7 linked regions of the Homo sapiens genome follow. The protein of the gene in region 7 purifies or fractionates together with the protein of the main gene of each other region. This does not show direct contact. Each region holds a gene or a part of one and is shown on either strand. Other genes may lie near its edges.

Region 1 (3,500 bases), on a different chromosome or scaffold from region 7:
TCTCCTGCCTCAGCCTCCCGAGTAGCTGGGACTACAGGCGCCTGCCACCATGCCTGGCTAATTTTTTGTATTTTTAGTAGAGACGGGGTTTCACCGTGTTAGCCAGGATGGTCTCGACCTCCTGACTTCGTGATCCATCCGCCTCCGCCTTCCAAAGTGCTGGGATTACAGGCGTGAGCCACCACATCCGGCCTAATTTTTGTATTTTTAGTAGAGATGGGGTTTCACCATGTTGGCCAGTCTGGTCTCAAACTCCTGACCTCAGGTGATCCACCTGCCTCAGCCTCCTAGAGTGCCGAGCCACCACGCCAGGCTTTTTTTTTTTTTTTTTTTTTTTTTTTGAGACAGAGTCTCACTCTGTTGCCCAGGCTGGAGTGCAGTGGCACCATCTCAGCTCACTGAAACCTCTGTCTCCCAGGTTCAAGCAATTCTCTTGCCTCAGCCTCCTGAGTAGCTGGGATTACAGGCATGTGTCACCATGCCTGGTTAATTTTTGTATTTTTAGGAGAGATGGGGTTTCTCCATGTTGGCCAGGATAGTCTCGAACTCTTGATCTCAGATGATCCGCCCGCCTCAGCCTTCCAAAGTGCTAGGATTATGGGCGTGAGCCACCACACCTGGCCTCTCTCTTTGTTTTAATTCTGTAATGTGGAGCTTTTCTTTTTCATTTTATTTATTTATTTTTTAAGAGATGAGGTCTTGCTGTGTTGGCCAGGTTGGTCTTGAACTCCTGGCCTCAAGCAGTCCTCCCACCTCGGCCTCCCAAAGTGCTAGGATTACAGGCATGAGCCACCACACCTAACTGCAGAGCCGTTTTTTTTAATGCATCACTAAGGTACAGTAAAATATGTGCATCTTAAGTGGAGAGCCAGTGACTGTGAACCTGTGTACACTAGTGTGGCCACCACCCAGATCAAGATGTAGGGTGTGGCAGGGAGGAAATTAGATAACTACTTCAAACTCAGAGTGGGGCTGGGGAGAAACCAGTGTAGGTAACAAAGCTGGTGGTGATGGCAGAAAGAACAGGCAGGCGAAGCCATCAAGAGTTATGGAGAGGTTCAGGCATGGTGGCTCATGCCTGTAATCCCAGCAATTTGGGAGACTGAGGCAGGAGGATCACTTGATCCCAGCCTGAGCAACATGACAAAACCCCGTCTCTACAGAAAAACACAAAAATGAAGTTGGGCATGGTGGTTCAGGCCTGTAATCCCAGCACTTTGGGAGGCCGAGGCGGGTGCATCGTTTGAGGTCAGGAGTGTGAGACCAGGCCAGCCAACATGGTGAAACCCAGTGTCTCCTAAAAATACAAAAATCAGCCAGGCATGGTGGTGCCTGCCTGTAGCCCCAGCTACTTGGGAGGCTGAGGAGGAGAATCCCTTAAGCCTGGGAGGCAGAGGTTGTAGTGAGCGGAGATTGCACCACTGCACCTCAGCCTGGGTAACAGTGAGACTCTGTCTCAAAAAAAAAAAAAAAAAAAAAAAAAAAAAGGCCGGGCATGGTGAGTCACGCCTGTAATCCCAGCACTTTGGGAGGCCAAGGCCAACGGAGCACGAGGTCAGGAGATTGAGACCATCCTGGCTAACACGGTGAAACCCCGTCTCTACTAAAAATACAAAATATTATCCGGGTGTGGTGGCGGGCGCCTGTGGTCCCAGCTACTCGGGAGGGTGAGAAATGTGTATGGCGTGAACCCAGGAGGCGGAGCTTACAGTGAGCTGAGATCACGCCACTGCAACAGTGAGCTGAGATCACGCCACTGCACTCCAGCCTGGGCGACAGAGCAAGACTCTGACACACACAGACACACACAGACACACACACACACACACACACGAAAATTAGCCACACACACACACACACACACACACACACACACACACACACACACACGAAAATTAGCCGGACATGGTGGTACGTGCTTGTGGTCCCAGCTACTGAGGTGGCTGAGGTGGACCCGACCTTTTGGCTTAGGTGGGAGGATCACCTGAACCCAGGGAGGTTGAGCCTACAATGAGCTATGATTGTACCAGTCTACTCCAGCCTGGGTGACAGAGTGAGACCCTATCTCAAAAAAAAAAAAAAAAAAAGTACTGCAGGAGGGACCTGCAGAGTTGGCCCTGGGAACCTGCCGGCCTCAGTGAGTGCCCTGGGGAGGCACTAGCTAAGGTTATGAGGGTTGGTTGGTTTTTTTGGCTCAGCCATAATCACCATTCTGGGTTCTCCAGCTCAACCCTAATTTTAAACATCCGCCATTTCCCTCCAGTTCTAGTCGTTGCTTGTTTTTTGTTGTTTTTTTTTCAATATACATATCAGAAAGATGTTTTATATCCTAATCTTTGGCCACATTTAATTGCCATAGGAGAAGGTAGGATGTTCATTTGTTTTGGTCTAAGACATCCTCCATGTACAAACTCAGGAGCAGAGTGAGCCCTTGGAGGAGTGGGAAGCTGGCAAGTTTGTGACTAGCACCCTTTCACACCCTTCCACATCCTACATACCTCTTCACAAAGGCTGCTTCTGGGGCTCTTGGAGGCCCCTGCATCCCTGAACATAGCTATGAAAGCCATGGAAGTCCTGTGGCTCCAGGGGCAGTTTTCTTTTTTTGGAGCATCATGAAAACTCAGGGGCTTCCCAGCAAAGGCTTCCATCAGTGAGGCAGCCATAGTTATTTCAGTGAGGTGGGCTTTGTCTCTTGGGAAGTCCTGTTTGTCCTTGCTGACAGCTTTCCAAGCTGCTTGTTCTCATTTCCACTTAAAGCTGATGCGTTCCCGTCAAGGTCCCCAAAGTCATGTACCCTGCCTGGCCTGCCCCTAGATTAGCCCCAATCAGTTGTAGCATTCTTGCCATCTCTTAGTAAATTCAAGAAAGCAAAACTTTCACCCACACTCTGCAGTTCTGTGGGAGCAGAAGCTGCAGGAATGCAGTCTGTCTGTTGGAAGATATGGGGGAGGCAGACAGTCCACAGGGATGCAGTGGGGACCCAGAGGAGAGGGAGGTTGGCCCTGGGAACAGAGGAAGGCTGCACAAAGGACCTGACTTTTTGCAGAAGGTGAAGGTTTTGAGGGAACCCACCAATTGAAGGAGGGGTTGGTGCAGGCACATGGCAGTAAAAGCACAGGGGAAGCCGGGATGAAGGAAGTTGTTGGCCATTTCAAGGGCCCAGCAGGGCCAGACACAGTGGCTCATGCCTGTTATCCCAACATTTTATAAGGCCAAGGCAGGACAATCACTTGGGGCCAGGAGTTGAAGATCAGCCTGGGCAACATAGCAAGATTCTGTCTCTACAAACATAAAAAATTTTTAAAGCTGGGCATGGTGATACAGGCCTGTAGTCATATTTACATGGACGACCAAAAAAAAAAATGGGGGGGCGGCTGGGTGCAGTGGCTCACGCCTGTAATCCCAGCACTTTTGGGAGGCTAAGGTGGGCGGATCACGAGGTCAGGAGATCGAGACCATCCTAGCTAACACGGTGAAACCCCGTCTCTACTAAAAATACA
Region 2 (3,500 bases), on a different chromosome or scaffold from region 7:
GGAAAATATCCAGCAGTAACACATCACGTTTAGGCAACTTCAGCATCTGGATTGACAGTTCAGCTAACACTTTGGCCTTCTGATTCCTTTACCTCTTCATTCTCTTTAGCCACCTGGTCACACAATCACACCCTGGATCTTGTCTTTACTAAAAAGCCACCACCCAGGCTGGGCGTGCAGTGGCTCACGCCTGTAATCCCAACACTTTGGGAGGCTGAGGCGGGCGGATCGCTTGAGGTCAGGGGTTTGAGACCAGCCTGGCCAACATGGTGAAAACCCGTTTCTACTAAAAATACAAAAATTAGCTGGGCGTGGTGGTGCGCACCTGTAGTCTCTGCTACTCAGGAGGCTGAGGCAGGAGAATCTCTTGAACCCAGGAGGTGGAGGTTGCAGTGAGCTGATATTGTGTCACTGCACTCCAGCCTGGGCGACAGAGCGCGACTCCATTTCAAAAAAAACAAAAAAGTTGCCAGCCAGGCCAGGCCCATTGGCTCTTGCCTGTAATCCCAGCACTTTGGGAGTCCAAGGTGGAGGATCCCTTGAGCCCAGGAGTTCAAGACCAGCCTGGGCAACATAGCGAGACCTCATTTCTACAAAAAAATAGGAAAATTAGTTGGGTGTGGTGACATTTGCCTATAGTCCCAGCTACTCAGGAGGATCCCTTGAGCCCAGGAGTTCAAGACTGAGTGAGCTATGATTTCGCTACTGCACTCTAGCCTGGGAAACAGCAAGATTGTACAAAAAAAAAAAAAAAGTCACCACACCTCCAAATCACTGATTCAGACATTCTGCTGTGATCATAACCCACTGTTTTCCAGTTTGCTGGCTCAAAAATATCAAATAATGTCACCTAGTTTTTTTTGAAATCTTTATGTAGTTTTACTAATATTTAAGTTTTATTTTTAAAACAAAATTTTGTGGAACCTTTTTTTTCCTGTTGGTAATCAAATACCTCTTTTTTTTTTTAACATTTTGTTTTCTGGGTATCCACAATAAGTCACCCTCAAATCTCAGTACTGTAAATATCCTCATTGTTCAGACTGGTGATTTGTTTTCTTTTTTGGCTAAAGGAAATATGTATCCCAAGAGCCCTCCATTTCCCTGCTCCAGTCTGGCCTGGTTCGCTAGGTCTGTTGGATAATTACTGTCATGGGATTCCATAAACACTGTCCTAGGGAATTCCCTTTGCCTCTTTGTTGTGCTGGATCCACTGATTCTTGGATTCCATGATGTTTTCTTGGGTTACTCTTCCATTTAATGGATCATCGAGAAGGGAACCTTCATCCTTTCTCTCATTGCTTTTCTGTTGGTCTGTTTTTCTTGGGCTGCTTTTACCTTGAGTTCTCTAGTCAGCCTGGGGGTTATAAGCTAGACTGCCAGTGTTCTAAAGCCAGTTCAGGGAATGAAGCCAGGGGATGGATCTCACAACTAAGTATGTAGGTTTTAATTTAATCTCTTGTTTTTCAGCATGATACTCCTGTCTTTAGCTGAGTCTGTTGTCTAAGAGTCCAGAGACCACCTACTTCAATCTTTCCACAGTAAACCTTGAGTCTTCTGTTATGGTGGGAGAGTAGTAGCCTGGTTGCTCAGAGTCAGAGAGGAAATTTAGGAGTCTACTGCTTCTTACACAGATTTTGACCCTTTTATTTATTTAAACTTTTTTCTTTTTTTGTTTTAAGGCTGCATTACTAGCCGATTCCCCCCCCACCCTTTTTTTTTTTTTTTTTTTTGAGACAGAGTCTCGCTGTCTCCCAGGCTGGAGTGCAGTGGCGCCATCTCAGCTCACTGCAAGCTCCGCCTCCCGGGTTCACGCCATTCTCCTGCCTCAGCCTCCAGAGTAGCTGGGACTACAGGTGCTTGCCACCATGCCCAGCTAATTTTTTGTATTTTTTAGTAGAGACAAGGTTTCACCATGTTAGCCAGGATGGTCTCGGTCTCCTGACCTTGTGATCTGCCCACCTTGGCCTCCCAAAGTGCTGGGATTACAGGCATGAGTGACTGCGCCCAGCCCACCCCACCTCACCCTTTTTAAAAAAAGAAAAAAAAGAAAAGAAAAGTTGGGGTCTCGCTATATTGCCCAGGTTGGACCCGAACTCTTGGTCTCAGGCAATCCTCTCTCCTCAGTCTCCTGAGTAGCTGAAATTACAGGTGCACACCACCACATCCAGCTCCACTCCTTTATTTTTTGTTCCGCCTGTGCATCTGCCTTCAGATGTACCTGTGCTTCCAATTCCCCAGTCTTCCTGGGTTTTGCAACATGAATAGTTTGTCCCTTGCCTTCCCTATTCTCGTCTCATCCTCCCTCCCCACCCCCAGGCAAATATCAGCCTTTTCGGATCTGCTAAGACAGTTAACACTGTCCTTTAGCTTTCCAGTTTCCACAGTTCTATTGATATCTGTCACCTGTTTCCATTTTCTTTGTCTTTATGTGTTTTTGCCTTTTTTAAAAAAGATCTTTACTCTGATTTTTATTGGATTTTTGGAAGGACCTGAAAGCAGACAGCTGTGTTCAATCAGTTAGTTTAGTCATTTTAAACAGAAGTCCCTGCATTAGTTCTTGAATTTTATCAAAACCTCAGTTCATTGACTGTTCCTTACTTCTTCTTTATTAGGTCTTCTTGTTTTTACTTCTCTCCTTACCAAATGTGGATTCCAAGATCTATCATTCTAGTCATTTTATAAATACACCATCACCTTTCCCCTCCAATTTGGTCAGACTTCAGCATGGTTGTATGCAGCTGCTTCTCCTCTTGTCAGATCTAGGTGCTTTGCATCTCTCAATCTTCTGAAATTTCTGGGACCTTGATCTTTTGGTTTATCCTATGTCTTGTCTGCATCTTTAGACTCCTTTACTGAGTCTTTCCCATCAGCATCCAAATAGCTGAAATATTTCTCATAGTACACAAATATTTTGGGGTAGAGTGGATGCCGCCTTTGCCCAACTTTACTTTCTTCTCTGCTTTTACCCTTTCCCAACCCTTTCTTCAAATGCAGAAACTAACTCATCTTTTGAAAGCCCAACCTAAATTCTGCTTTCTCCTTCAAGGCTTACCTGCTTCTCTTCAGCCAAAAGTGATTTCAGCCCCCAATGAATGCCTAGAGAACTTTACTTCATTGTGTTTGCCTTTTTATAAACCTTTTTGAAAATAAGTGTTTTGCCTCCCCTACTAGACTGGGATTCTTGTCACATTTGTTTATGTAGTCCAATACCCATAGTTGAAGAAATAAACCATGGTTATTAAGATAAACAATCAAGACACTTCACACACAGGTTCTTAAAAATGTTGATTGTCAGAAGTGCATACATGCAGATACTCAGTTGGATAACTCACATTTTTCTTTATCTGCGAGTTTTATTTATTTTTGCTGTCACTTTTCACCATATACATGGTTAAAAATAAACAATATTCAGCACCTTTAATGCTCTTCAGTCTTTCCAGTCTTTTTTTTTCTTTCTTTTTTTTTTTTAAATCCTTTATGAGATGTATATGTTGCCCTCA
Region 3 (3,500 bases), on a different chromosome or scaffold from region 7:
AGAGTTTCAGTTTTGAAAGATGAAAAAGTTCTAGAGATGAATGGTGATGACAGTTCATTAAGTGAATTACTTAATGCCACAGAACTGTATGCTTAAAAACGGTTAAAATAGTAAATATATGTTATATATATTTACCACAATAAAAATTTATTGACTATATATGTGTGGCTCTATTTCTGGACTCTATGTGTCTTTCTTACATCAATACCATAGTAATCACTATCCTGAGTACTACGACTTTATAGTAAGTTGTGAGGTAGTGTAGTGTATATCCTTCAACTTTGCACTGCCTTTTGAAAGTTCTTTTGGCTATTGGAGGCTCTAAGCATTTTCATATAAATTTTAGAATCATCTTGTCAGTTTCCAGCAAGCCTGCTAGAATTTTGGTTGAGATTATATTGAACCTATAGATGAATTTGGGGATAATTAACATCTTAACAATATTTGGTTTTCTGACCCATGAGCATAGTATATCTTTTTATTTATTTGGGTACTTAATTTCTCTCAGCAGTGTTTTGTAGTTTTCAGTGTCCAGATGTTGTATTTTTTTCTTTGTCAAATTGATCCTTAAGTATTTTCTTTTATTTTTTATTATTATACTTTAAGTTCTAGGGTACATGTGCACAGTGTGCAGGTTTGTTACATATGTATGCATGTGCCATGTTGGTGTGCTGCACCAGTTAACTCATCATTTACATTAGATATATCTCCTAATGCTATCCCTCCTCCCTCCCCCCACCCCATGACAGGACCCGGTGTGTGATGTTCCCCACCCTGTGTCCAAGTGTTCTCATTGTTCAGTTCCCACCTATGAGTGAGAACATGCGGTGTTTGGTTGTCTGTCTTTGCGATAGTTTGCTCAGAATGATGGTTTCCAGCTTCATCCATGTCCCTACAAAGGACATGAACTCATCCTTTTTTATGGCTGCGTAGTATTCCATGGTGTATATGTGCCACATTTTCTTAATCCAGTCTGTCACTGATGGACATTTGGGTTGGTTCCAAGTCTTTGCTATTGTGAATAGTGCCACAATAAACATATGTGTGCATGTGTCTTTATAGCAGCATGATTTATAATCCGTTGTGGGAAGTCAGCGACCCCGAATGGAGGGACTGGCTGAAGCCATGGCAGAAGAGCATAAATTGTGAAGATTTCATGGACATTTATTGGTTCCCCAATTTAATACTTTTATAATTTCTTACACCTGTCTTTATTGCAATCTCTGAACATAAATTGTGAAGATTTCATGGACATTTATCACTTCCCCAGTCAATACTCTTGTGATTTCCTGTGCCTGTCTTTACTTTAATCTCTTAATCCCGTCATCTTCGTAAGCTGAGGATGTATGTCGCCTCAGGACCCTGTGATGATTGCATTAACTGCACAAATTGTTTGTAAAGCATGTGTGTTTAAACAATATGAAATCTGGTCACCTTGAAAAAAGAACAGGATAACAGCGATGTTCAGGGAACAAGGGAGATAACCATTAGGTCTGACTGCCTGAAAGCTGGGCAGAACAGAGCCATATTTCTCTTCTTACAAAAGCAAATAGGAGAAATATCACTGAATTCTTTTTCTCAGCAAGGAACAGTCCTGAGAAAGAGAATGCATTCCTAGGGGAGGTTTCTAAAATGGCTGCTCTGGGAATGTGTGTCTTATATGTTGCAGATAAGGGATGAAATAAGCCCTGGTCTCCCAGGCCTATTAGAACGAGGAAATTCCTGCCCAGTAAATTTTAGTCAGACCAGTTGTCTGCTCTCAAACCCTGTCTCCTGATAAGATGTTATCAATGACAGTGCGTGCCCGAAACTTCATTAGCAATTTTAATTTTGCCCCAGTCGTGTGATCTTGCTCTGCCCCCATTTGCCTTGTGATATTTTATTGCCTTGTGAAGCATGTGATCTCTATAATCCACACCCTATTAGTACACTCCCTCCCCTTTGAAAATCACAACAAAATCTTGCTGGTTTTGCGGCGTAGGGGGGCATCACAGAACCTGCCGACACGTGATGTCTCCCCCAGACACACAGTTTTAAAATTTCTCTCTTTTGTAGTCTTTCCCTTTATTACTCAGACCAGCCGACACTTAGGGAAAATAGAAAAGGTCCTATGTTGAATTATCGGGGGTGGTTCCCTTGATATAATCCTTTGGGTATATGCCCAGTAATGGGATGGCTGGGTCAAATGGTATTTCTAGTTCTAGATCCCTGAGGAATCGCACACTGACTTCCACAATGGTTGAACTAGTTTACACTCCCATCAACAGTGTAAAAGCGTTCCTGTTTCTCCACATCCTCTCCAGCACCTGTTGTTTCCTGACTTTTTAATGATCGCCATTCTAACTGGTGTGAGATGGTATCTTATTGTGGTTTTGATTTGCATTTCTCTGATGGTCAGTGATGATGAGCATTTTTTCATGTGTCTGTTGGCTGCATAAATGTCTTCTTTTGAGAAGTGTCTGTTCATATCCTTCGCCCACTTTTTGATGGGGTTGTTTGATTTTTTCTTGTAAATTTCTTTACGTTCTTTGTAGATTCTGGATACTAGCCCTTTGTCAGATGGGTAGATTGTAAAAATTTTCTCCCATTCTGTAGGTTGCCTGTTCACTCTGATGGTAGTTTCTTTTGCTGTGCAGAAGCTCTTTAGTTTAATGAGATCCCATTTGTCAATTTTGGCTTTTGTTGACATTGCTTTTGGTGTTTTATTCATGAAATCCTTGCCCATGCCTATGTCCTGAATGATATTGCCTAGGTTTTCTTCTAGGGTTTTTATGGTTTTAGGTTTAACATTTAAGTCTTTAATCCATCTTGAATTAATTTTTGTATAAGGTGTAAGGAAGGGATCCAGTTTCAGCTTTCTACATATGGCTAGCCAGTTTTCCCAGCACCATTTATTAAATAGGGATTCCTTTCCCTATTTCTTGTTTTTGTCAGGTTTGTCAAAGATCAGATGGTTGTAGATGTCTGGTATTATTTCTGAGGGCACTATTCTGTTCCATTGGTCTATATCTCTGTTTTGGTACCAGTACCATGCTGTTTTGGTTACTGTAGCCTTGTAGTATAGTTTGAAGTCAGGTAGCGTGACGCCTCCAACTTTGTTCTTTTGGCTTAGGATTGTCTTGGCAATGTGGGCTCTTTTTTGGTTCCATATGAACTTTAAAGTAGTTTTTTCCAATTCTGTGAAGAAAGTCATTGGTAGCTTGATGGGGATGGCACTGAATCTATAAATTACCTTGGGCAGTATGGCCATTTTCACAATATTGATTCTTCCTATCCATGAGCATGGAATGTTCTTCCATTTGTTTGTGTCCTCTTTTATTTCGTTGAGCAGTGGTTTGTAGTTCTCCTTGAAGAGGTCCTTCACATCCATTGTAAGTTGGATGCCTAGGTATTTTATTCTCTTTGAAGCAATTGTGAATGGGAGTTCACTCATGATTTGGCTTTCTGTTTGTCTGTTATTGGTGTATAGGAATGCTTGTGATTTTTGCACATTGATTTTC
Region 4 (4,047 bases), on a different chromosome or scaffold from region 7:
TTGAATACCCTTTATTTCCTTCTCCTACCTGATTGCCCTGGCCAGAACTTCCAACACTATGTTGAAAAGGAGTGGTGAGAGAGGGCATCCCAGTCTTGTGCCAGTTTTCAAAGGGAATGCTTCCAGTTTTTGTCCATTCAGTATGATATTGGCTGTGGGTTTGTCATAGATAGCTCTTATTATTTTGAGATACGTCCCATCAATACCTAATTTATTGAGAGTTTTTAGCATGAGGGTTGTTGAATTTTGTCAAAGGCCTTTTCTGCATCTATTGAGATAATCATGTGGTTTTTGTCTTTGGTTCTGTTTATATGCTGGATTACGTTTACTGATTTTCGTATGTTGAACCAGCCTTGCATCCCAGGGATGAAGCCCACTTGATCATGGTGGATAAGCTTTTTGATGTGTTGCTGGATTCGGTTTGCCAGTATTTTACTGAGGATTTTTGCTTCAATGTTCATCAAGGATATTGGTCTAAAATTCTTTTTTTGTTGTGTCTCTCTCTGCCACCCTTTGGTATCAGGATGATGCTGGCCTCATAAAATGAGTTAGGGAGGATTCTCTCTTTTTCTTTTGATTGGAATAGTTTCAGAAGGAATGGTACAAGCTCCTCCTAAAATGTGGCACATATACACCATGGAATACTATGCAGCCATAAAAAATGATGAGTTCATGTCCTTTGTAGGGACATGGATGAAGCTGGAAACCATCATTCTCAGCAAACTATTGCAAGGACAAAAAACCAAACACCGCATGTTCTCACTCATAGGTGGGAATTGAACAATAAGAACACATGGACACAGGAAGGCGAACATCACACACCGGGGACTGTTGTGGGGTGGGGGGAGGGGGGAGGGATAGCATTAGGAGATATACTTAATGCTAAATGACGAGTTAATGGGTGCAGCACACCAACATGGCACATGTATACATATGTAACAAACCTGCACGTTGTGCACATGTACCCTAAAACTTAAAGTATAATAATAAAAAAAATGCTTACTTTAAAAAAAGAAAGAAAAGAAAAAAAAAAAAAAGAAGGGTTCAGGCCGCTGTGGGAGGCCCAGCACCACCCAGCACAAGACAGTACGGTATCCCGCCGCGCGCCCGACTCCACCTGGCGAGCAGGGAGGGGCCAAGCTTACGCGAGGCGTGGCATCCCGCCCCTCGCTGCATTGTACTTCCGGGCTCACATTTCTGCATCCGGAGTATGAGAACCCTCAACCAGGCTGACCGGATCCGGAAGTGGATTGCGAGCCAGGAGGAGGAAGCCGGCGGTGGCCCCGTCAGCAGCCGGCTGCTGAGAGGCCGGTAGGCGGCGGCGGTCCCGAGGGGCGGCGGCCGCGCTGCTCCCTGAGAACGGGTCCCGCAGCTGGGCAGGCGGGCGGCCTGAGGGCGCGGAGCCATGAAGCTGTACAGCCTCAGCGTCCTCTACAAAGGCGAGGCCAAGGTGGTGCTGCTCAAAGCCGCATACGATGTGTCTTCCTTCAGCTTTTTCCAGAGATCCAGGTGAGCGGCACAGGCTGGTGGGCCGTGGCGGTCGGGCGGAGAGGACTGGGGTGGGGGTCCGAGTCGGAGTGGGCCTGGGGTCGGCGGAGGGATGAGGGGAGGGTGGAGGAGGCCAAGGGTAGGGGCAGGGCGGGGTGGCCGAGTGCCCGGGGTCTGAGAAGGCTGGTGTCCGAGTCAGAGGCGGGGCGGGGTGGGGAGGGCCCGGGGTCTGCTGTCCGGGCTTGGTCTCCTATAATGGAATCTGGCCGTGGACTCTACCTTTGAGGAACCAACATTAGCTCTTTAAGAGCTTATACCATTCTAGAATATAGTTCTCTACTCAGTGTTTTTCAAATTTCTGTCGTGTAAAAATTTTAAGGAGACTGTGAAGTAGTGCAGATTTCCAAGCTTCATGCCAAGATGTTCTGAATTAGTAGATTGAGGCCTCGGTATTTATATTTTAGACCAACACTTCCCACCCAGTGATTCTGACTCTGGGAGCTTGGGTGCCGCATCTTGAGAGCCATATTTTGATTTTCTTGCGGGGCTTCCCAACAATTCTGTATGAGAGATAGTGATATACTTTTTTTTGTTTGTTTTTAATGGGTGAAGTCACTGAGGTACCAAGAGGTTATATCACAACCAGCTAGAACTGAAAGCCAGGTTTAACGCTTTTTAGTTGGACACTAGTGGTACAAAAGGATTCCACACGGAAGATGCAAATGAAGCATGGGATCTGTAGGGCTTACAGGCTTTTACTTGTTTCTGGGGCGCTTTAATTGCTGGAACGTGTTAGAAGTAACACAGACACTTCCAGACCATTCGTGGGAGGGATTGGGGTGACTCAGGCACGAAAGAAGGAGGACCCTACATGGTCGGTATCTATGGTCATCTTGTCTCAAAATCTGATGGAATCTGCCGTTTGGATTCTGTTTTCCCTGCTTCAGTGCAGCTGGTTCTTGATGAGAGTTCTTTGCCAAGGACTTGCTGGATGTAAAAAAAAAAAAATGTTATTTTGTTGAAACTTTCTGCTTCTTTGAGTTCTTTTAAAAAAATATTTTTAATTGTGGTAAAATGGTACACAAAATTTATCTTCACTATCTTTAAGCGTGTAGTGAGTGCATTGATATGAAATAGATTGATAGTGTTGTGCAGCCATCACTGTCAATCGTCTCCAGAACTCCTTTTTATCAAATTCGTGTCTATTAAACACATTCCCTTCTCCCCCAGCCCATGGCAACTGCCATTCTAATTTGTCTCTGTGATTTTGACTTTTCTGGCGACCTTAGATAAATGGAATCATATAGTTTTTGTGTGTCTGGCTTATTTCATGTAGCATAATGTCCTCAAGGCTCATGCATCTTGTTGCATATATCAGAATTTCTTTCCTTTTTAAGGCTGAATAATCCATTGTATTATTCACCACATTTTGCTTATCTGTTCATCTGTCAGTGGACACCTGGGTTGCTTCCACATTTCAGCCATTGTGAATGATACTGCTATGAACATGGATGTACAAATATCTCTTCAAGACCCTGCTCGCATTTTTTTGGTATTTACCCAGAAGCGGAATTGCTGCATTATCTTTTAGCTCCTTCTTGGGGTTCTTGGTCTTTGCAGTCTTTACCATGGCCTACATTCACTGCTCTGTGTTGTTGCTTTTCTCAGATGGAACTTTTGGTGCCAACTTGGCTCTGATTCTTTTTCCTTTTTCCTTCCCATTAGTACTTAAGATTCTCAGAGATTTCACTTGTAGGACTTATACCTCACCTGCTTGGGATGCCCACACTAGTTTCCAATGACTAACAGCTGCAACACTAAAGGGACATCTCTACTAATATGTCTTAAAACAACACATGTCCCAGCTGATTTATTTATTTATTTATTTTATTTTAGATGGAGTCTTGCTCTGTCACCCAGGCTGGAGTGCAGTGGCACAGTGTCAGCTCACTGCAACCTCCGCCTCCTGGGTTCAAGTGATTCTCCTGCCTCAGCCTCCCAAGTAGCTGGGATTACAGGCGCGCACCACCACACCCGGCTAATTTTTGTATTTTTAGTAGAGATGGGGTTTTACCATGTTAGCCAGGCTGGTCTCGAACTCCTGAGCTCAAGTGATCCGCCTGCCTTGGCCTCCCAAAGTGCTAGGATTACAGGCTTGAGCCACCACGTCCGGCCTGAGCTTGTTTTCTTATAAGACCGCTTTACTTACGTCCTTTGTGCCCTATAATTACCCGATTCCAAAGTTGAAAAAGTAGTTTCCCAGCTTTTTTGGTCTTTGTATACATGCTGTCACAATGCAGTTCTTCCTTTGTCTCTTTATAGCCGTGTCTCAAATGCTGTCTCTAGGTTTACTGCAAAGCCTTCCTTGTTTGAGGTCTTCTTTTCTGAGGGGTTATTTTGATCACTTCAGTCCCTCAAGATATTAACAAGTAATACTGTGTGTGCAGGCATTGTTCCAAGTGCTTTACACGTATTACCTCGTTTAACTGTTGCACAAATCTTGATTTTTTTAATGTGGAGGCACAGCACACAGGCCCAGAGTCAGGCCTTCAGTTACCT
Region 5 (3,500 bases), on a different chromosome or scaffold from region 7:
AAATCCAGTTGTGGAATCAAATTGTGAATCCTATCAGAGATAAAGGCAAATAAAATATCACAGTTAGATTCTAAGAGTCTACATATGCATATCCAAGTAATTGAATAACTGTTACCATAGTACATTTGTAATGACAGTTTTGTGTTTAATCAATTCAGGAGCCTGTTGATAACCTTGGATAATCAGCCTGATTTCTCCATGCAAAATACAGTAATACTCTCAGCGAATAAAAAGCTCTTTCATTGTCCAATAAACACTTCTTTCAGCTCCACAGAGTAATTCAACAACTCAAAACTATTTAGGTGTTATTCCAATTATGTGGATAAAAAAAATTAACAATAAATGTAAGTACTTTGTGCATTATCACACAGATTTTTTTCCCCACTTTTTGTTGTGCCATTGCTCTCCAAGGTCAAATGGTTGACTGCTACCCAAGTAGAGGATTTCATCCAAAATGTAATACGGTTAGCAGTTAAATGTACTTTTATTTACTTATTTATTTATTTAGAGACGGAGTCTCGCTCGTTGCCCAGGCTGGAGTGCAGTGGTGCAATCTCAGCTCACTGCAATCTCTGCCTCCCAGGTTCAAGTGATTCTCCTGCCTCAGCCTCCCAAGTAGCTGGGACTACAGGCGCACGCCACCACGCCCAGCTAATTTTTTTGTATTTTTAGTAGAGATGGGGTTTCACCATGTTGGCCAGGGTGGTCTTGAACTACTGACCTCAGGTAATCCGCCCACCTCATCCTCCCAAAATGTTGGGAGTATAGGCGTGAGCTACCATGCTAGGCCTTGGACCTTTACTTTTAATATCCTTTTGTTTAGACAGCTGACTTTGAAGTAGAGTCTATTAAGTTAAGAGAATATCATATAGAGGTAGTAAAATGTGATAAGGACTATAAATATGGATGGGGAAAAACTAACGTATTAAAACATAGCTGGAAAATCCTAAAGATGAGAGAGGCTTAGGTAGGGACTAGAAATATTACACATACTTTCATAGAAATTATAATATCCTGAGATGTAAAAGCCCTGGCATAATAATAAATATCCTTTGTATAGCTCAGTGTCTATGTGGCTCATATACTTTAGATCTATGGATCTTCACCATGGTTATGCATCAGAATCACCGGAGATGCTTTTTCATGGTTATGCATCAGAATCACCAGAGATGCTTTTTTCAAAATATTTACATCTAGATCCCTCCTCACGAAATTCTAAATCAGTATATTTAAAGACAGAATCAGGCATATACATTTTTAAAGAGGTCCCTAGCTTATTATAGCGCACAAGCTTAGCAAGAACATTGCTTTTGATGCCAAATTCATTTTTGAATAGCACAATTTTAAAAGCACATGGAACCAGAGAAGGTTCAGAGAAGCTTGACATTCAAGATAAACGTTAACAAATGGAAGGGGACTCTAACAAGAAAAGGTATATGTTGTTAGAGAGAAAAGGCTCTGGGCTGTTCAAATGTATGAGCACTTTTTTCATAAGTGATCCTTAGGAAATCAAGCAAAAGAGTAAGTATCCATTAAGTGAACGACATTTAGTTGGTTGGATATCAAGTGCCTTTTGATTGCTTGGTTAATAAATTACTAGTAGTCTCTACTATTGAGACTTCTAAGACTACTCAAAATAGTCATTTGTCTTGTTTTTAACAATCATTCTAAAAACAGGATTAAAGATATATTGGCTTCCACTTGTTCCTCCCACTTACATGCGTAAGACGAGATGAAAAATGCAAAAGCATGGCAAAATAAACCTTATAGTTATTCCAAACACATTAGATACAAATGGACGGGAATCAAGGACTTACGATCTCTGTATTTCAAAATGAATAAAAGTTGAAATTCTATTATTTGCGAATATTAGATCAAATTTCTTAAAGTTAAAATCATAACCACTTACCATTTCAGCTAATAATTTATTCTGGGTTTTAACTTCATGGCCTATTTCAATGGAAAGCTATAAAGAAGAAGGTATACACAGGATTACTCACATAAAAGTATTCAAGTGTTATAAAGTAAAAATAATGTCATTCTAAGCATACACATTTTCTGAAATGAAACGGTCTTCTAGACACATAAACTCTCTTTTTCTGATACTTTTTCTACCAAGATCAATAAAAAATAAATTTGGAATTTCTACTCCTCCCAATTATGGACATTTCTTCTTTCCTCTTTATTTTAATTTCATCTTAATATTCAATTCCATCTTTTAATTTGGTATGTACTACTTCTCTCTGATTCTCTTAACCTTGTATGCTTTTATATCTTTATTATATTCCTACAAAAGCTACAAATTCCTACAAATATCTGTATATTTCCTTCTTACATTTTATTTATTATATTTTATAAATTATATATATATATTTTAACTTATTTTAGGTTTGGGGGTACAGGTGAAGGTTTGTTATACAGTTAAACTCATGTCACATGGATTTGTTGTACGGATTATTTCGTCAACCAAGAATTAAGCCTAGTACCCAACCTTATTACATTTTGAAAGATCTAGAAGTACCCATACAACCAATTCAAATCTAGACAGAAGTATTTAATATTTTCCTAATGAAATGTTACATTACTTTAAATATGTCTAAACTGATTTTTCCTTAGTTTAAAGGTTTTTGCTTTAAAATATGATAATAAATTGAAAAAAATAAATATTAGTGTTACTTACTTCCTGAAGCTCTGAAGAAAAGAGCCATAGCTTACAAAATACAATACTATAGCTAATTATGACAACTATTCAAACCAAAATCTATCTAATACTTTATAGGACAGATTCATCAAAGGCTTCACTTCCAAGATATTTAAATAAATAGAATCATCTACTGAAAATCTTGGTAAATCACTGCAAATATTGTTCTTCATCTGTGTGAAAGCACATGGGATAATACTGATACAAAACCATACTAGAATTCTATAGATCAGAACATGAGCTTTCCTCCCAGATTTAACAACTCAGAGATAATAAAGTAACTATAAAGCTAGACTGCCCACATTACTCAACTTCTATCACTGTCATTCATGCCAAGGAAAAATATTTCCAGGACATCACAACTTTCTTCTAACAAGTAATCTAAATTATCTACATTGGGGGGGTTTTTAAAGGCATTTAATTCTTAAGTCCTTCCAAGTGTTGTATTTTTAAAATTAACATTATACAATATTACTTAGTTCATAAATCAACTTTAGTTTAATATGACTTTGAAAACAATCCTGTTTCAAAATCTAAAGGTCTCCAGACTGAATGTAATTCGATTTTCCAAAGACTATATTGAAATACCAATTAAGTTTTATCAACATGGGCTTCTACTGAATGCTTTATAAGTGAACGTCATGTTCATTATAATGCAGTATCAATCACATATATTATTAAAATCATCTTCGTGTAATTCTTTGGTTCAATACAAATTTACTCAACACCATTGATAAGGAATTATGCTAAGTGCTATATAGAATATAAAGTAAGTACAATAGAAAACCTGCATTCTGGT
Region 6 (3,500 bases), on a different chromosome or scaffold from region 7:
GGGAGGTGGAGGTGGCAGTGAGCCAAGATTGCGCCACTGCACTCCAGCCTGGGCAATAGAGCGAGACTAAGTCTCAAAAAAAAAAAAAAAATATAAGGAATCATGGGAAAGACATTTTACATACCTCTGTAACTTCAGAATGTAGACAGTGACTACCAAACCGATTGTAATGCATAAGTTTGTTTGTTTGTTTTTGAGACAGGAGTCTCACTCTGTTGCCCAGGCTGGAGTGCAGTGGCATGATCTTGGCTCACTGCAACCTCTGCCTCCCGAGTTGAAGCGATTCTCCTGCCTCAGCCTCCTGAGTAGCTGGGATTACAGGCGCCCACCACCATGCCTGGCTAATTTTTGTATTTTTAGTAGAGATGGGGTTTCACCATGTTGGCCAGGCTGGTCTTGAACTCCTGACCTCAAGTGATCCGCCCACCTCAGCTTCCCAAATTGCTGGGATTACAGGCGTGAGCCACTGCACCCAGCCATGTAATAAGTTTCGGTGAGTGAGTGGAGTGAGGGCTCGTTGGAGGATGTGGATGGATAGATGGATGAATTAGAATTGTGGTTTGAGACCTTTTCTTCTTCTCTTTGTCTTCTTTCCCCTTTCTCATGCCTCCAGAATTAAAGATTGTAAAGAAAAATAAAGGGACATGTTTTTAAATATCTTAGCGATATCTTTGTTTTTTTTTTCAATGATGACACTCTTTGTGGCCCAGACCTTTTTAAACTCCCAAGGATTCAGATTTTGAAATTCCAGGTTTGCAAGATCATCTAGTACCTGCACTAGATTTTTAACTTAGGATACTCCAGGATATGCTTTAAATCTGTACCTTCTAATATGTAGCCACTGGCCACATGTGACTGTTGAGCACCTAAACTAGGACTAGTCCAAATTGAGGCATGCTGTAAGTGTGAAGTACACACCAGATCTTGAAGACTTAGTATGGAAAAAAAGAACGTAAAGTATCATTAATAATTTCTTTTTTTATTACATTTTAAAAGATAATATTTTGGATATATTAGATTAAATAACTTAAAATTAATTTTACCAATTTCTTTTTACTTTTTTATTATGGTTACTGGAATATTTAAAATTACATATGTGGCTTCTGTTATTCTATATTTCTACTATATTTCTATTCTATCAATATTTCTACTGAATATATAGAGCATTTTTCCCTTCCCTCTTCACTCTTTCTCCTACCCCCTTACGTTTTCGATCTAATCTCTTTAGATAGTAATATACCTAGTAATGTATCTTCCAAATTGCTTAGGGTGTGTGGTATAGTGCTGCTTTTGAAATGGAGCAGTTAAGTCCCAACCTGGGATCTCCAGACTCTTAACAGTACTTAAAAAAAAAAGAGAGGGACTAATAAAAAACATATTTGTCTATAAAGAAATGCACAGGCTATGTGAAAGGTAAGGTCATAATAAACCCAGCTGGAATTGTGTTAAATCTGTGCAGGATACTGATTGCCTGCTTCTGAACTGTGGGTATGGTTGGCTGTGGATAATGTAGAACATGTAAGAAATGATGGTCTGCTGCATGTACCAGGCCACATCTAAGAGTCTTATTGTTGAGCACAGCCACGTTTACACTGAATATAAACTTTATTCACCATTCCAGGCCTTGACCTTATATTCAGGAATGGCAGCCTGGCATGGTGAATAGAACTTATTAGGGTGCATCGTAGATTTGCTCAGTAGGGGCTCAGGAATTGACACAAATGCTGACGGAGTTGGAACAAGTAAATTATATGTCTGGAAGATAAATATTTAAATAATTAGATTAAGGGTGGAAATGATAAAAGTGTACTTTGTTATAAAGATTGGAGATCCCAGTAAGAGTAATATGCTCTATGAAAAATTGTAAGTTCTTATATTACATTATTAGTTTATGAGTACTTGTTACTGTTTTCACATTTTTGCTTATACTCATACAGTACTCCTACTTTGCTATACTCACACTGGTTTATCTCCCAAGCCTCAGGTAGATCATGCTTCCCTGACTCCCCCAGACAGGTTTTTCCTGTACCCTCAAAACATTTATCAGTGTTCTCATTTTATATTTATGTGTAATTTTACATTATGTTCACCTTTCTCATAAATTTTGCCAGATCAGGAACCGTGTCTTTGGCCACTGTTACATCCCCAGAACGTTGACTAGTGTTTTATGAGTAGAAGATGCTTTGTGAACATTTGTTTGGTTAATTAGGTACCAGTTTGGTAGCCAATATATGATACTAAAGGTTTATATTGTGAACGTGGAACTGTATTGAAACGTTAATGTTATTGCTGCCATCCCCAGGGCAATAGTCTGACCTTGATTGACCTTCCCGGCCATGAGAGTTTGAGGCTTCAGTTCTTAGAGCGGTTTAAGTCTTCAGCCAGGTAAGAAGGAAAGAAGTGAAGTGGGCTTGTCTAGGTCTGTATCTGTATATCAAAGCCACTCATGTGATTTGCTCTGGTGGTGTTTGGGAGGCAGCATGGTATCCTGTGGTAGACCTTGAGGTGACCTTGGGGTCAGCCAGTTCTGGGTTGCAAGTCCACCTTCACCTGGATGATGAGGATTTTATGGGATTAAAATGCTTAAAAAGTGTTTTTTAGTGTTTAGGAAATGTTAACCCTTCTTGTCATTGTTACTAAATGTTTGCATTTATTCTGAAGGTGAATTTAATAATGTATATGACTATTAAAATCTGAAAAAAGAATTTTAAAGCTGGGATGAATCCTAGCAGTTTTTAAATGCCAACATCATTTATATATATAGTGTTTTTTTGTTTTTTTTTTTTGAGATGGAGTCTCACTCTGTTGTCCTGGCTGGAGTGCAGTGGTGTGATCTCGGCTCACTGCAACCTCCACCTCCTGGGTTCAAGTGATTCTCCTGCCTCAGCCTCCTGAGTAGCTGGGATTACAGGCACGCACCACCACACCCTGCTAATTTTTCATAATTTTAGTAGAGATGGGGTTTCACCATGTTGGCCAGGCTTGTCTCGAACTCCTGACCTCATGATCCGCTGGCCTCAGCCTCCCAAAGTGCTGGAATTACAGGCGTGAGCCACTGCACCTGGCCCATATATATTCTCAAATTACGTAAAATTGATGTTTCAAGAAGTACAGAACAATATTTCCATATTTCTTTTAGTGTGTGCTCTGGTGTTACTGACTCTTAAGTTCTTCCCTAAAAAGTCTTATGCTGCAGTTTCAGATGCTTCTTTTTTGGTCTCTAACATTAATAAGAACTGAAGAGGAAAATCAGTATGCCACATTTCACTGATTTGAAGACACATTTTAATATCTCTGAATTTAGAATATATCTTATAGTTGATGGTGTCATAGTTTAATTGGCAGTATTTTCTCTTAGCGGTCCCTAAAATAATGTCTTTAATTGGCAGCATTTTAGTTTTGATGGAATGAAGTAGTAGATTCTTTGCCTTTTATTGAAGATGTCTAGACTGAAATTTCATTATTGCATCTTTGCCCACAAGATGGTGGTGATGAACAAT
Region 7 (3,500 bases):
CTCTCTTTGTTGCCAGGCTGGAGTGCAGTGACGTGATCTGGGTTCACTGCAGCCTCCACCTCTGGGTTTAAGTGATTCTCCTGCCTCAGCCTCCCAAGTAGCTGGGAATACAGGCGGTGCCAGGACACCCAGCTAATTTTTGTATTTTTAGTAGAGACGGGGTTTCACTGTGTTCGCCAGGATGGTCTCTGTCTCTTGACCTCGTGATCTGCTTGCCTCGGCCTCCCAAAATGCTGGGATTACAGGTGTGAGCCACTGCACCTGGCCAAGTAACTGTATTTATTTATTTGTTTGTTTGTTTGTTTATTTATTTATTTATTTATTTTGAGACGGAGTCTCGCTCTGTCACCCAGGCTGGAGTGCAGTGGTGGGATCTTGGCTCACGGCAGCCTCCACCTCCCAGGTTCAAGTGATTCTCCGGCCTCAGCCTGCTGAGTAGCTGGGACTACAGGTGCATGCCACCACACCTGGCTAAATTTTTGTATTTTTAGTAGAGATGGGGTTTCACCATGTTAGCCAGGTTGGTCTCAATCTCTTGACCTCGTGATCCGCCTGCCTCAGCTTTCCAAAGTGCTGGGATTACAGGCGTGAGCCACTGCACCCGGCCGAGTAACTGTATTTTTAAATATTTTTACTGATGGCTGGACATGCTGGCTGGCACCTGTAATCCCAGCACTTTGGGAGGCTGAGGTGGGAGGATTGCGTGAGCCTAGGAGTTCAAGACCAGCCTGGGCAATATAGCAAGACCCTATCTCTACAAAAAGTTAAAAATTAGCTAGGTGTGGTGGTGTGCCCTGTAGTCCCAGCTACTTGGGAGGCTGAAGTTGGAGGATCACTTGAGCCCAGGATGTCGAGGCCGCAGTAAGTTATGATCATGCTACTATATTCCAACCTGGGAGACAGAGTGAGACCCTGTCTCAAAAACAGAAAAGTTATAAAGAAGTGTTTTTCAGCTCATGGTAAAGCTGCTCTTCTGTATGATCTCCAAGAGCTTTGCAATCATCCTTATTGATTTCCTGATTTGAGGAATAGAATGGCAATACTAGATACCATTTATTTAGTGCTTACTATGTACCAGGTAGTTGACTGAAGTACTTTTCAGCCTTTTTGTTATTTAACCTTAGCAACAATAGGAGATGTGTGGATTGTCTTCATTTTATAGAAGAGAAAGTAGAGATTTAGAATGTTTTAAGTAACTCGCCCCAAATCCACCAGCTAGTAGTAAGTGGTGAGTCAAGATTTGAACTCAGGTCTACCTGCTCTTCAAATCTGGACTCTAAACGACTACCACTCATAAATCTAGATCATCTGATGGATGCCACCAGCACTAGAGATAGGTTAGTGGACACCTCAGGAAGAGTGAAAGCTGGAACTGGGGAAGGGAGAACTAAAGTTGTCACCTCCTGCCATTGCTTTTCAGAATGGAATCCAGACAAATAAGCCAGCTTTGCGTGCTGTCCGACAACGCAGTGAATTCACCCTCATGGCCAAGTGAGTTGAGAGAAGCTTTCTGGTGGGGTGATACAGTGTCTGAAGAAAAGTAGACTTGCAATCAGTGGCCTTGGCTGTGAAGTCTGGGATTGGTTATGCTGGAGCTTATGTGGGAAAAGGCGTCCTGCCCTTTCCCACAGTCTGACTAGTGGTCATTTGCAGGCGCATTGGGAAAGACCTTAGCAACACATTTGCCAAGCTGGAGAAGCTGACAATCTGTGAGTGTTCTTGGGGTCTTTCAGAAGTGGGGCAGTAAATCAAAGAGGGTTGAGGACTATATTCCCTGAGCTTTGTCCTTGACCTCACCCATTGTGGCTTCTTGTTTGTCTCTGTAGTGGCAAAGCGCAAGTCCCTCTTTGATGATAAAGCAGTGGAAATTGAAGAGCTAACATATATCATCAAACAGGTGAGCTACTAGCCATCAGGAGAGCCCAGCATTCCAATCAGATCACTTCTGTCTTCCTGTCATTTTCCATTGCCATGGGGACCCAGAGCAAGTTTCTTTTTTTAGAGAGGGGGGTCTCACTGTGTTGACCAGTCTGGAGTGTAGTGGTGTGACCTAGCTCACTGCAGCCCTTAACTCCTGGCCTCAAGCTTTCCTCCAGCCTGAGCCTCCTGAGTGGTAGAGACTACAGGGACATGCCCTCATTCCTGGATAATTTTTTTTTTTTTTTTTTTTTTGAGGCAGAGTTTTGCTCTTTCACCCAGGCCGGAGTGCAGTGGTGCGATCTTGGCTCACTGCAACCTCCACCTCCCAGGTGCAAGCGATTCTCCTGCCTCAGCCTCCCCAGTAGCTGGGACTATAGGCACCCGCTACCAATGACTGGCTAATTGTTTTATCTTTAGTAGAGACGGGGTATGCCAGGCTGGTCTCGAACTCCTGACCTCAAGTGAGCCGCCCACCTTGGCCTCCCAAAGTGCTGGGATTACAGGTGTGAGCCACTGCACTCGACTGTAATAATAACTTTTATTTTATTTATTTATTTATTTATTATTATTTTTTGAGACAGAGTTTCACTCTTGTTGCTCAGGCTGGAGCACAGTGGCGCGATCTCAGCTCACTGCAACCTCTGTCTCCTGGGTTCAAGTGACTCCCCTGCCTCAGCCTCCCGAATAGCTGGGATTACAGGCACGTGCCACCGCGCCCGGCTAATTTTGTATTTTTAGTAGAGACAGGGTTTCTCCACGTTGGTCAGGCTGGTCTCAAACTCCTGACCTCAGGTGATCCGCCCACCTCAGCCTCCCAAAGTGATGGGATTACAGGCGTGAGCCACCGCGCCAGGCCAATAATAACTTTTTTTTTTTTTAAGACGGAGTCTCACTCTGTCGCCAGGCTGGAGTGCAGTGGCGCGATCTAGGCTCACTGCAACCTCCACCTCCCAGGTTCAAAACGATTCTTTTGCCTCAGCATCCCAAGTAGCTGGGATTATAGGCGCGCGCCACCACACCCAGCTAATTTTTGGTATTTTTAGTAGAGATGGCATTTCACCATGTTGGCCAGGATGGTCTCAATCTCTTGACCTCATGATCTGCCTGCCTTGGCCTCTCAAAGTGGTGGGTTTACAGACATTAGCCATTGAGGAATTGTGTGTATGAAAATAGTTCTGTTGATGCCTCTCGAAACTACAGTGCCTTTGACTCTTCCCTTTTCCTGAGTACTGTCCGGGGGCTTTGTTGGTCATGCCCTAGACCCGAGATTTTGGCCTTTGAAAGGGTTCTGTGGCCAAGAGCATGGCCTCACAGAATGGAGCAGGGCAGTAGGCTGGAGGAGTAAACAAGTTATTTACAATGGATGAAGGCCTATTTTGCCTCTTTGTAGCTCTTCTCTGCAGGGACTGAGCCAGAGCAAACACTAGACCTTGGAAAATCCTAGCAGGCCCATCTGGTCTGACTGTCTGAGATACTCTCACTCTGGCTAGTAACTTCCACCTTGTCCTTCCTACCAGAGATGGCCATCGTGAGAGATGCTGACTAAGGACTCCTTGGCTAATACTTTGTTTTTCCTTGGA

Evidence for each region.
Region 1: the proteins of STX5 (region 7) and SNAP29 purify together in Homo sapiens (affinity purification with mass spectrometry; 4 studies listed by BioGRID and IntAct, with this or other methods). This does not show direct contact.
Region 2: the proteins of STX5 (region 7) and TNPO3 purify together in Homo sapiens (affinity purification with mass spectrometry; 3 studies listed by BioGRID and IntAct, with this or other methods). This does not show direct contact.
Region 3: the proteins of STX5 (region 7) and VAMP4 purify together in Homo sapiens (affinity purification with mass spectrometry; 3 studies listed by BioGRID and IntAct, with this or other methods). This does not show direct contact.
Region 4: the proteins of STX5 (region 7) and YKT6 purify together in Homo sapiens (affinity purification with mass spectrometry; 3 studies listed by BioGRID and IntAct, with this or other methods). This does not show direct contact.
Region 5: the proteins of STX5 (region 7) and BET1 purify together in Homo sapiens (affinity purification with mass spectrometry; 3 studies listed by BioGRID and IntAct, with this or other methods). This does not show direct contact.
Region 6: the proteins of STX5 (region 7) and SRPRB purify together in Homo sapiens (affinity purification with mass spectrometry; 3 studies listed by BioGRID and IntAct, with this or other methods). This does not show direct contact.

What each region holds. Positions count from the first base shown.
Region 1 is NC_000022.11:20,872,507-20,876,006, forward strand, and holds part of SNAP29 (synaptosomal-associated protein 29), read left to right. Parts: intron 1-3,500. UniProt on the Homo sapiens protein: SNAREs, soluble N-ethylmaleimide-sensitive factor-attachment protein receptors, are essential proteins for fusion of cellular membranes.
Region 2 is NC_000007.14:129,048,612-129,052,111, reverse strand, and holds part of TNPO3 (transportin-3), read left to right. Parts: intron 1-3,500. UniProt on the Homo sapiens protein: Importin, which transports target proteins into the nucleus. Specifically mediates the nuclear import of splicing factor serine/arginine (SR) proteins, such as RBM4, SFRS1 and SFRS2, by recognizing phosphorylated SR domains.
Region 3 is NC_000001.11:171,721,566-171,725,065, reverse strand, and holds part of VAMP4 (vesicle-associated membrane protein 4), read left to right. Parts: intron 1-3,500. UniProt on the Homo sapiens protein: Involved in the pathway that functions to remove an inhibitor (probably synaptotagmin-4) of calcium-triggered exocytosis during the maturation of secretory granules.
Region 4 is NC_000007.14:44,199,731-44,203,777, forward strand, and holds the start of YKT6 (synaptobrevin homolog YKT6), read left to right. Parts: upstream 1-1,247; 5' UTR 1,248-1,405; coding exon 1,406-1,509; intron 1,510-4,047. UniProt on the Homo sapiens protein: Vesicular soluble NSF attachment protein receptor (v-SNARE) mediating vesicle docking and fusion to a specific acceptor cellular compartment. Functions in endoplasmic reticulum to Golgi transport; as part of a SNARE complex composed of GOSR1, GOSR2 and STX5.
Region 5 is NC_000007.14:93,994,356-93,997,855, forward strand, and holds part of BET1 (BET1 homolog), read right to left. Parts: intron 1,967-3,500; coding exon 1,910-1,966; intron 31-1,909; coding exon 1-30. UniProt on the Homo sapiens protein: Required for vesicular transport from the ER to the Golgi complex. Functions as a SNARE involved in the docking process of ER-derived vesicles with the cis-Golgi membrane.
Region 6 is NC_000003.12:133,808,815-133,812,314, forward strand, and holds part of SRPRB (signal recognition particle receptor subunit beta), read left to right. Parts: intron 1-2,302; coding exon 2,303-2,385; intron 2,386-3,500. UniProt on the Homo sapiens protein: Component of the signal recognition particle (SRP) complex receptor (SR). Ensures, in conjunction with the SRP complex, the correct targeting of the nascent secretory proteins to the endoplasmic reticulum membrane system.
Region 7 is NC_000011.10:62,825,552-62,829,051, reverse strand, and holds part of STX5 (syntaxin-5), read left to right. Parts: intron 1-1,420; coding exon 1,421-1,491; intron 1,492-1,653; coding exon 1,654-1,709; intron 1,710-1,826; coding exon 1,827-1,897; intron 1,898-3,500. UniProt on the Homo sapiens protein: Mediates endoplasmic reticulum to Golgi transport.